Regions from separate parts of the Homo sapiens genome. Here region 1 is linked to region 2. Evidence: fine-mapped expression QTL. A gene starts in region 2. The other region holds a variant in brackets. All regions are shown on one strand. Distances are from middle to middle. Region 1 has its middle 6.8 kb from the start of LCN2. Region 2 holds the start of DNM1 (dynamin 1).

The links. PIP is the estimated chance that this variant, and not a neighbour inherited with it, causes the effect. A credible set is the group of variants that fine-mapping cannot tell apart.
Region 1: its variant is the best candidate, but not a certain one, in a credible set for the expression of DNM1 in whole blood (TOPMed, PIP 0.79).

Annotation. Positions count from the first base shown.
Region 1 is chr9:128,140,161-128,145,160 of GRCh38, forward strand. No RefSeq gene overlaps it. Among named protein-coding and RNA genes, the nearest start is that of LCN2, 6.8 kb to the right of the region's middle. RefSeq lists a cis regulatory region at 1,966-2,139. The variant T/C (reference allele first, on the strand shown) is at 3,038.
Region 2 is chr9:128,200,064-128,205,575 of GRCh38, forward strand. DNM1 (dynamin 1) reads left to right here and starts at 3,316. Exons shown (of 22, transcript NM_004408.4): 1 at 3,316-3,568. The coding sequence starts at 3,408. It also overlaps a transcript of CIZ1 not described here. RefSeq lists enhancers at 2,999-3,098, 4,530-5,102 and silencers at 3,159-3,378, 3,947-4,241.

The DNA of each region.
Region 1 (5,000 bases), 60 kb before region 2:
GACACCCCCCAGGGATATTGCTCCCACGATGCTGGAGGGAAGAAGATGATATGACTGTCAATATGACAGAAGGTGGACACGCCCCCACTCATATTGTTTCTAATTGCAACGTGGGAGAGGAGGATATGACACGCGATATCGCAGGGAGTAGAAACACCCCTGTGATACTGTTCTTAATATTCAGGGAGGAAGAGGATGATATTACTCCCAATACAGACGGGTGTACACCCTCTGTACACCGAGGGTGTACACCCGTCTGTGAAACAGTTCATAATCTCCAGAGGGGGAGATGATCTTACTCACAATATGGTAAACAGGCTGTGAGTCCACCGCGGATCCTAAGAGCCAGCGGGGGAAGAGGGGCTGGCTCTCAGTCACCACAGCATGGGGGGCCTTTATGTTCAGGTTTTGCCCAAGAGTCAGCTTATTTACTTCTTGTACTAGCAGGGCAGTTCTGCCAAGGCCCTCAAACAGGGGGGCCATCCTTTAGAAACCCTGTCTAGTTGTTTAGAGACTTAGGCCACCGGCCTCAGCCAGGGCCCCACAGTTTGGGTTAAAAGTCCAGCTGCCATCTTTTCTCTCTCTGACGCATACAATGGAAAAGGCTTTGTCAGATCGGGTAGCCCCAGGGCTGGGGCTGCCAGAAGTCAGATGTTTTTTTTCTTCTTGAATCTCTTTTGTAAGTTATAGTTTTCTGGGAAATTTCCCATTTCCTTATTTATTGCATTCTTTCGTTACCTTTTTAATAGCTCTAGAACTCTATAGTTCTGCTCCCTTTTTATTTCTTTTTTTTTTTTTTTTTTTTTTTTTGAGATGGAGTCTGGCCCTGTCGCCCAGGCTGGAGTGCAGTGTCGCGATCTCAGCTTACTGCAAGTTCCGCCTCCCGGGTTCACGCCATTCTTCTGCCTCAGCCTCCCCAGTAGCTGGGACTACAGGCGCCCGCGACCACGCCCAGCTGATTTTTTGTATTTTTAGTAGAGACGGGGTTTCACCGTGTTAGCCAGGATGGTCTCGATCTCCTGACCCTGTGATCCACCCACCTCGGCCTCCCAAAGTGCTGGGATTACAGGAGTCAGCCATGGCGTCCGGCCTCCTTTTTTATTTCTATGGTTGTTTATTTGTGTCTTATATCTTTTTGTCATGAGAAATTTCTCCAAATTTCTATTCGATTAGTCTTTTCCAAGAGTCAACTTTTGGCTTCGATAGTCCCATAAAATAGGAAGATCTTTCTCTCTTCTTGATTTCTTCTCCTGATTGTTTTCTTTCTTTCCTTCTTTTTAAACATATTTTATTTTATGATTTTTTGAGACAGGGTCTTGCTGTGTCACCCAGGCTGGAGTGCAGTGGCACGATCTTGGCTCACGGCAACCTCCGCCTCCCGAGTTCAAGTGATTCTCTTGCCTCAGCCTCCTGAGTAGCTAGGATTACAGGTGTGCACCATGACACCCAGCCAATTTTTGTATTTTTAGTAGAGATGGGGTTTCACCATGTTGGCCATGCTGGTCTTGGAACTTCTGACCTCAGGTGATCCGCCTGCCTCAGCCTCCCAAAGTGTTGGGATTACAAGCATGAGCCACCATGCCCGGCCTCAGAGTCTGTTTCTTACTGGATCCTGTTGTCTGGTAGAAGGAGGTCTTCAAAGTTTCCAGACTCCTGTTCAGCCAGGATTGCTTTTGAATGGATCTTCCCCAAGGTTCGCTTGGGCCACAGGAAGACCAGACACCCCTGCCTGCCCTTGGGGAGTGGTAGACCTTGGGCAGCCTCCTCTCCACTGACCAGCAAGAGCAGATCCAGCCCATCCCTCACCTTTAGACTTTTCTTGGCAATAGTTGGACCCCAGTCCACAAGCTCCAAGGCTGGCAGTCAGCTCCTCCTCTACTGTGGTTCTCTGAAATGGCCCTCTTTGGGCAGGAGGCAGAGAAGCGGCTCTCTCCTAGTGCCTGCTCCTAGTGAGGATAATTAGTTAGAAGGAGAGAGACTCAGGTCAGGAAGGAAGGACCTTTGAGGCCTTTGCTTAGGAGGCAAGGCCCTCTGGGTGGCTTGTAATGCTCACAGCACATTTAGTAGGCGGGGACACATTGGATGTGCACTTCGGTGCCTGTATGTACCCTGAGCTACACAGGAAGGGGATGAGGCAGGGTGTGGGGAGGCAGGAAGAGGAGGAGACAGGCTGTGCACGGTGGCTCATGCCTATAATCCCAGCACTTTGGGAGGTGGAGGAAGGAGGATCACTTGAGGTCAGGAGTTGGAGACCAGCCTGGCCAACATGGTACAATGCCCAGCTCTTCCAAAAACACAAAAATTAGCCGGGCGTGGTGGAATGCACCTGTAATCCCACCTACTCAGGAAGGCTGAGGCACGAGAATTGCTTGAATCTGGGCGGACGTTGCAGTGAGCTGAGGTCACGCCATTGCACTCCAGCCTGGGCAACACAGCTAGACTCAGTCTCAAAAAAAAAAAAAAAAAAAAAAGAAGAGAAGGAGACAGTGGGAGGGAGAAGGGCCAGGCTCCCACCCCCCAGCCCCAGCACCTGCCTGGGACACAGCTGAGCCCTGAAGCTCTTCAGCCCTGGGCTGGGGGCTCTCTGAGCAGCCCAGCTGCAGCTGTCTACACAGGCGGGGCTGCCCATGACCCGGGTCCCCTCCTGAGAAGAGTCCAAGTCCCTTTGTGAAGAGGTCTGTAGTGCAGGTGGCCCAGGACAAGAGGAATCTGGGGTGTGGGGAGAAGGGGTCTATGGGGTCAAGGAGACTATGCTGGCTGCAAAATGGCCCCCAAAATATATCCATGTAAATGAATAATGTAAATGTAACTTTATGTAGAAAAAGGTTTCAAAGGCTGGGCATGGTGGCTCATACCTGTAATCCCAGCACTTTGTTTGGGAGGCTGAGGTGGGCAGATCACTTGAGGCCAGGAGTTCGAGACCAGCTTGGCCAACATGGTGAAAGTGCATCTCTACTAAAAATACAAAAATTAGCCAAGCATGGTGGCACACACCTGTAGTCCCAGCTACTCGGGAGGCTGAGGTGGGAGAATCGCT[T/C]GAACCAGGAAGCGGAGATTGCAGTGAGGCAAGATCGCGCCATTGCAGCCTAGCTAACAGCGAGACTCCGTCTCAAAAAAAAAAAAAAAAAAAAAGTATTTGCAAATGATTAAGGATCTTATTCTTTATTATTTTTTTTAATTTCATAATGGTTAACATCCTAATGCCTGTTCTTTTCTTGGTGCACATTTGTTACAGTACCTAATGCCTGATTTTTAAGGTGAATGAATGACGTATGTATATTACTCAAAGGCAAATGACACATAAGCTATTTTTTGTTGTTGGTGGTGGTGGTGTGGCCCAGATGTTTTTCCTCTCCTGAAGGGCAAGAATTTTCTCATTCCTTTTGGATGTTGTTTGTTTGTTTGTTTGTTTGAGATAGGGTCTCGCTCTGTCACTGAGGCTGGAGTGCAGTGGTGTGATAACAGCTCACTGCAACTTTGTGGTAATTTGCTGTAGTAATTTGATGATTTGGGAAATTCTCAGCTTCTCTAGATTGCAGAAGATGCTAACAATAGGAAATTCACTGTTAAGAAAGTGAACTCTTGAGAGAAAGCCAAGGGTGTGGCCTGCGGATGTGGGGAAGAGGTGGCCAAGCCAGGGGCCCCGGAGGTATGGGAAGGAAGGGACCTGAATCAAGGGAACCCAGCAGTGTGGGAGGAGGTAGTTCAGGACAGGGGACCCAAGAGTGTCAGGAAGAGGTGGGACCCAGTGGTGTGGGGAGGTGGCCCAGGACAGGGGGACCTCGGATTGTAGGCAGAACCTGGAGAACCACGAGACGCTTCAGTTGGGGCAGATCCAGGCTGAGCTCCCAGGGAGGGGCGCTTGGGACTGCAGTGACCTGGGAGAGGCCAGTGCCCACCCAAGGCCTGAGGGAGTCTGGGCCCAGGGAGAGGCACCCAGACCTGTGCCCTGCAGCCTTGGGCCTGCCCATCATGGCAATGCAGAGGGCTCCCCCTCCTGACAGGTGATTCTGAGAGTCACAGGACAGGGCAGGGAGTGGTCCTCCCTCCGGCCCAAGGTCTGGGCCACCAAACTTTGTACCCAGAAACTCACACTTCCCCCTCAGACCTCTGACCTGGGCCCTCTGAGAATCGGGCTGAGAAGGACAGTGGCCAGGTGAAGGCCAAGGTCTCTGGGTGTTCTCGGCATCTCCTGCTGCTCTGCCGCTGGCACTGCCCTCCCTTCCCCTCACCCAACTCTGCACTGGTCCAAGTTGTCCCCTCCTTTTGAAGGTGGACACGCTTTCCCTTTGGAGCGAGATCTGGTCCTCGCTGCCTGTCACAGCCTTGTTCATGTCCCCCTCCCCCAAAGAGGGAGGCTCAGCCATGGAACCCACCCCCTCAGCTGAAATAAACACGTGCTGCCAAGGAGGAGTGGGGGCTGGGTCTGCGATGTCCATCCACCACTGGGATGAAGTGGAGGGCATAGAGGCTGCAGCCTGTTCCATCCTCAGCCCCCGCAGGGCACCAGAGGGGCTCCAGGCAGGAGGCTGTGTGTTGTGGTTCTGAAGCCAGGGATGTCTTCAGGGACATTTGGTCTCATTTGACCCTTCCGGAACCTATTACCCTGCCCCCTGGGCTGGGCACGCTCCTGGACTGTCCTGGGCTCTCGGGAGAACCAGCTTTCAGGAGAGCCAGACCGGTCCTCTCACCCAGCCACCTCTGATGGTGCCAGCGGAGGCCCAGCCAAGGACCTGGAGAGCAGGGAGCACGGGAGCATGTGGGGTAACGCAGGGGTGGCCGCAGTGGAGATGCCCCTTTCCTGGGGTGCTGGGGGCTGCAGTCCGGGCAGGAGGGGTGCAGAGCTGGGAGGAGCATTGGTTTTGAGCAGCACCAGGACCATGTGGGACAGAGGCCTATGACAGAGGGACTGCGGCCCAGCTCCATGGGAGCCTGGCATCCACCACTGCCTGCCGCTGCCTGTGTCCACCCTAGACCCTGCTCAGAGCCTTGACGTCCAC
Region 2 (5,512 bases):
CAGGTGTGGGCCACTGCACCTGGCCCTGAGATTCTTCTTTTCAACCAACTCCATGTGATGCCAGGCTGCTGGCCTGGCATCAGTGATACAGCAGTATAGGATACTTAGTATAATCCCATTTCTGTAAAAACAAAATGGAACAAAATGAATATGTGCATATATGAAAAACAAAGCCAGAGAACGATCCCTAAGCTATAGTGGTTATCTCTAGGTGGGAGGATGACCAGAGGTTTTCAAATACTTGTGTAAAGTCTGGTTTTACAATAAGTTTCAATATTGTAATTAGGGGGGAAAAAGTAAAAATAATAAAAGCTGGCTGGGCATGGTGGCTCACAGCTATAATCCCAGCATTTTGGGAGGCTGAGGCGGACAGATCATGAGGTCAGGAGTTTGAGACCAGCCTGGCCAAGATGATGAAACCCCGTCTCTACTAAAAATACAAAAATTAGCTGGGCACAGTGGCGAGCACCTGTAATCCCAGCTACTCAGGAGGCTGAGGCAGGAGAATTCCTTGAACCAGGGAGGGAGAGGTTGCAGTGAGCTGAGATCACACCACTGCACTCTAACCTGAGCGACAGAGCAAGACTCTGTCTCAAAAAAAAAAAAAGAAAGAAATACAAAAAATTAGCTGGGCGTGGTGGTGCATGCCTGTAGTCCCAGCTACTTTGGAGGCTGAGGCAGGAGAATCACCTGAACTTGGGAGGCGGAGGTTGCAGTGAGCTGAGATCACGACACTGCACTCCAGCCTGGGAGACAGAGCGAGACTACGTCTCAAATAAATAAATAAATAGGCTGGGCACAGTGGCTCATTCCCGTAATCCCAACACTTTGGGAGGCTGAGGCAGGAGGATCACAAGGTCAAGAGATCGAGACCATCCCGGCCGACATGGTGAAACCCTATCTCTACTAAAAATACAAAAATTGGCCGGGCGCAGTGGTTCACACCTGTAATCCCAGCACTTTGGGAGGCAGAGGCAGGCAGATCACAAGGTCAGGAGATGGAAACCATCCTGGCTAACACGGTGAAACCCTATCTCTACTAAAAATACAAAACATTAGCCGGGCGTGGTGGCACGAGCCTGTAGTCCCAGCTACTTGGGAGGCTGAGGCAGGAGAATTGCTTGAACCCAGGAGGTGGAGGTTGCAGTGAGCCAAGATCGCACCACTGCACTCTAGCCTGGGTAACAGAGCGAGATTCCGTCTCAAAAAACAAACAAACAAACAAAAAATACAAAAATTAGCTAGGAGTGGTGGCACGTGCCTGTAGTCCCAGCTACTCGGGAGGCTGAGGCAGGAGAATCGCTTGAACCCAGGAGGCAGAGGTTGCAGTGAGCTGAGATCATGCCACTGCACTCCAGCCTGGCGACAGAGTGAGACTCCGTCTCAAAAATAAATAAAATAAATAAGTAAATAAATAATATTAAAAGCCCAGCCATGATGCCCTCTAGGCAAACATCTATAAACTGCACCCCCTCCTGGTGCCAGTCATCCAGGCTTCCATCTCTGCCTTCTCTTGTCCTCAGAGCATAATAACAGGTTGGCATGGAACAGCTGCCAGGTTCCATGCAAGTTGTGTGGCACTGATGCTCCAGCTGTCTGGTGAGCTGTTATCATTGGCATCCTCACAGCTGCAGCTTAATAAGGGCCCCCTGAGCACTAGGCCTGGGCTGTGCCCTACACAGGCATTTGATCTATTATTATCCCCATTATCCAGATTAGTTAACTGAGGTTCAGAGACGTGGAGGGACCTGGGTCACGCAGCTTGTTTAAGGCCCAGATTAGACTCCTAATCCACTCTCTGGTGCTACCAGGGAGAGGGCCTGCTTGTTCCCCATGCCTGCCTCGAAGATTCCTCCCCACAAGGGTCACTCTCTGATCACCATCTTCACAATAGCAACACCACCCTACCCCGCCCCTGCTTTCTTGCTCTGCAGGGCACGCCATCTAACAGGGCCATCGTTATTGCCCTATTTGCATATTGTCTGTCTTTTTCCACTGAATTGTCAGCCACATGTGGGTAAGGACTTTGTCCGTTTTGCTCACTGCTTTATCTCTGGAGTCTAGCATAGTACCTGGCTCAACAAATACGCATTAAATGGATGAGTAAGTGAACAGTCTCCAATTCACAGACCACTTTGTCAGCAGTGCCCCCACACTGTTCACAGCGCAGGGAAATGACTCACCGACTCCCCATGAGCACAGTGTAGGCTAGCCTTCCCTTCCTAGCCTCCACCGTGAATACTAATTAGGTTTCTTAAATGCAGAGATGGACGGCTGGGCTCAGGGCCCCATGGTCTGTCTGTGTGAAAGGGTACGCAGGGTAGGATTGTAGGAGCCCTGGATTTGAATCCCACTGTTTTACGCTGTTTTACCACCATCCTGATGGGTTGGAGCAAAGACTTCCACTCTCTAGGACAAGAGCTTCCAACTCTCCCAAGAAGGGCCCTCCAGGTGTCAGGGCCTCTGCACTTGCTGGTCATTCAGCCTGGCATGCTCTTCCCCTGATCTGCTTGCTGCTGGCTCCTTCTCATCATTTTGGTCTCTTCTCAAATGTCACTTCTGCAGAGAACACCCCCGACTCCTGCCAAGCCAATGTGAACTTTCCACACCCACAAAGATACCTTTTTTCACCCTGTTTATTTCCTCCATCCCTCTTACTATGAATTATTTTCATTTTTACTATTTCATTTATCTGCTTACTTATTTACTGTCTGTCTCCCCAGCTTGATGCAAGATCTATGAGGGCAGAGGCCTTGGCTGTCTTATTCGTTGCTGAATCTTCAGTGCCTAGGACAGGGCCTGGCTTCTAGCAGGTACCTAGTAAATATTTGTTGAATTCATGTTCCAACTTTCTCCTTCTAGAAACAAGGAAACTGAGGACCAAAGGCAGAAGAGGACATGTTGGAGATCAGAGTCAGGATCTAGGGATAGAAGCCAGCGAGATGAAGGGGAACTCATCTCGGAGTTCTGACCTCTGAGGTCAGGAGGCTGTGACCTCAGAGGAAGCCCATCTGCTCTCCAGGCCTGTTTCCTCATCGGTAAGATGGAGTGAAACATCCAGACCACTCTCCAAGAGGCCTGGTACTAGGAGTGAGACCCAACCCATTGACAAATATATTCTGCGCAGCATCCGCGCACCCCAGACACTGCTAAAGCACCCCAAAAGCCGCAGAAGGTGAAAACTACGACACCCATGATGCCCCGGACGGCGCCTGCGCACGGCGGCCGGCCCGCAGCGCCGCGGGCTCCCCCTAGCGGCGTCCGGGAGCGGTGCTCGCTCCGATCCCCGAGGGGCGGGGGCCCCGCGGCGCAGGCAGTCTGGGCGCGCGGCTGCAGCGGCGGAGCCGGAGTCGGAGCCGGGAGCGCTAGCGGCAGCCGGATCGCAGCCTGCGGGGCCCGCCGCAGCCATGGGCAACCGCGGCATGGAAGATCTCATCCCGCTGGTCAACCGGCTGCAAGACGCCTTCTCTGCCATCGGCCAGAACGCGGACCTCGACCTGCCGCAGATCGCTGTGGTGGGCGGCCAGAGCGCCGGCAAGAGCTCGGTGCTCGAGAATTTCGTAGGCAGGTAGGCGCGGCGCGCCCCCAGGCGCCGACCCCCGACCCCCGGGATCCCTGGAGTCCCCGCCCGGGGCACTGACGGCGCGGCGACCTCGCAGCCCCCGACGCTGCACCCGCGGCCGGCGCGCCCCCCACCCCCAGCCGGAGCGAGGAGGCCCTCCCCCCACCACGAGAGCCCCTCGGGGCAGCAGCGCCCCCCGCTAGTCTGCAAACGTCGTCAAGCCTCCGGCTACCGAATCACGCCCCCTCCTCCGTCCCATCCTTTAGGGCAGACAACGCTCTGCCAGAAGCCCCGGGCAAAGAGCTGCCCCCCGCCCCCAACATGGGCATGGAGAGAGCCCGCATTACTCAGCGTCTCCGTTGGGCTCCGGGAGTCCCTTGGAGCGGGCAGCACCCGGGGGCAGCGTCCCCCACACCGGGCTCAATGGGGGACATCCCCCTACCCCCATGGGAATTCCTGGGCCGTGGCAGAGGTCAGCCCCCGCATCCCAGTCCCTAGAAGAGGACGTAGTCCCGCGGGCATCGAGGACCGGGCACGGCCTCCCGCCAGCACACACACACCTCTGCGGCTCCCGCCGCCATCCGTGCGCAGCGCGGCGAGGGGGGAGGCGCGGGCTGCAGGATGAGGAAGGGAAGAGGGGAGGAGAAACCACTTCTTATCCTTTTCTGAGCAGCCGGCCCCTTGCTTCGCCACGGCCCCTGGGTGGGGGGCGCCTGTCAGTGTCGCCCTCCCCTTGGCCTGGCCAGAGGAATCGTGTTGGAGGGAGAGGCGGCAGAGGGCAGAGATGACTAAGACAGGGATGGCGGGAGGGGGGAGCCATTTGCAGAACCTAATCCCCCTCCCGCCTCTGATCCCACAAGGCGCTGAGAGGCCTAGGTGGCGGAGAGAGGAACAACCGCAAAGACAAAGGGTCGTGGGTTTAGCGGGGCAGGCAGGGTCGTGACCCGCAGGCTCCCCACAAACCCCCAAAGGGAGGCAGAAATAGTTTTTCTGGTGCTGAGGAGAGAGAAGAAAGATAGGAGCTCTCCAGGTACTGGAGGTGGGTTGGGGGGCTGGGCAGACTGGGGGATGAAGTGAGAGAGTTTACACTGACCCCGTCTTTCATCTCCCCCCCATCTTCTTCAGAAACTCTTGCTTTCTTCCAATGACCTTCAGGGCCAAAAAAGTGACTGGCACATGGGAGAGGGAGGCAGGGGCCCTTGTCCGCAGAGGTACAGCAGTTCTGTCCAAGCCAGGTTCTGCTGCAAAACCTCAGGCAAGTCACTTGCCCTCTCTGAGCCTCAGTGTCCCCATCTCTAACATGGACAGTGGGACTGGGTGGTTGTTCCTGCCCCTCAAATGTCCTGGGAAACCCATGCCAGCCCTAGAGGTGAGAGGGAGAGGGCCTGACTGGAGCCATGTGTGTGTGGGACGTTGGAAGGCCACCGTGGGGGCGGCCGTGCCCATCTGGTCAGCAGAGGGGAAGGCATCTGTCTCTCCAATGGCTCCTGCAGAGCCCCCCTTCTGATCACATGACCCCCGGAGCTGCAGAGACACAGGCAAGAGACACACCACGGGCCCCTTCCCCAAGGGCCAGCAGTCAGGGATATCCAGCAGTTTAGAATGGAGAAACCATATTCCTACCTCTCGTCCTTTGAATGTTGGCTGAACTCCTGCCCCATGCCAGGCTGCGTGCTTCAGGCTTGGGGTAGGGAGGGGACCAACTGGTGATTTCAGCCCGCATCTACTGAGCCCATCCCATGCATCCCCCTATGCTGAGTCCTTCATAGGCTCACAGGAGCTCCCAAGAGGCAGGTACCATGATGCCCATCCTACAGATGAGGAAACTGAGACCCTGGAGGTTAGATGCCTTGCCCAAGGTCACACATTCAGAAAGGGCAGCAGCTGTTAGACTCCAAAGCCCAATTCCTAATCTCGACGCTGCACATCCTCTGACAGCCGGGTCCTGCA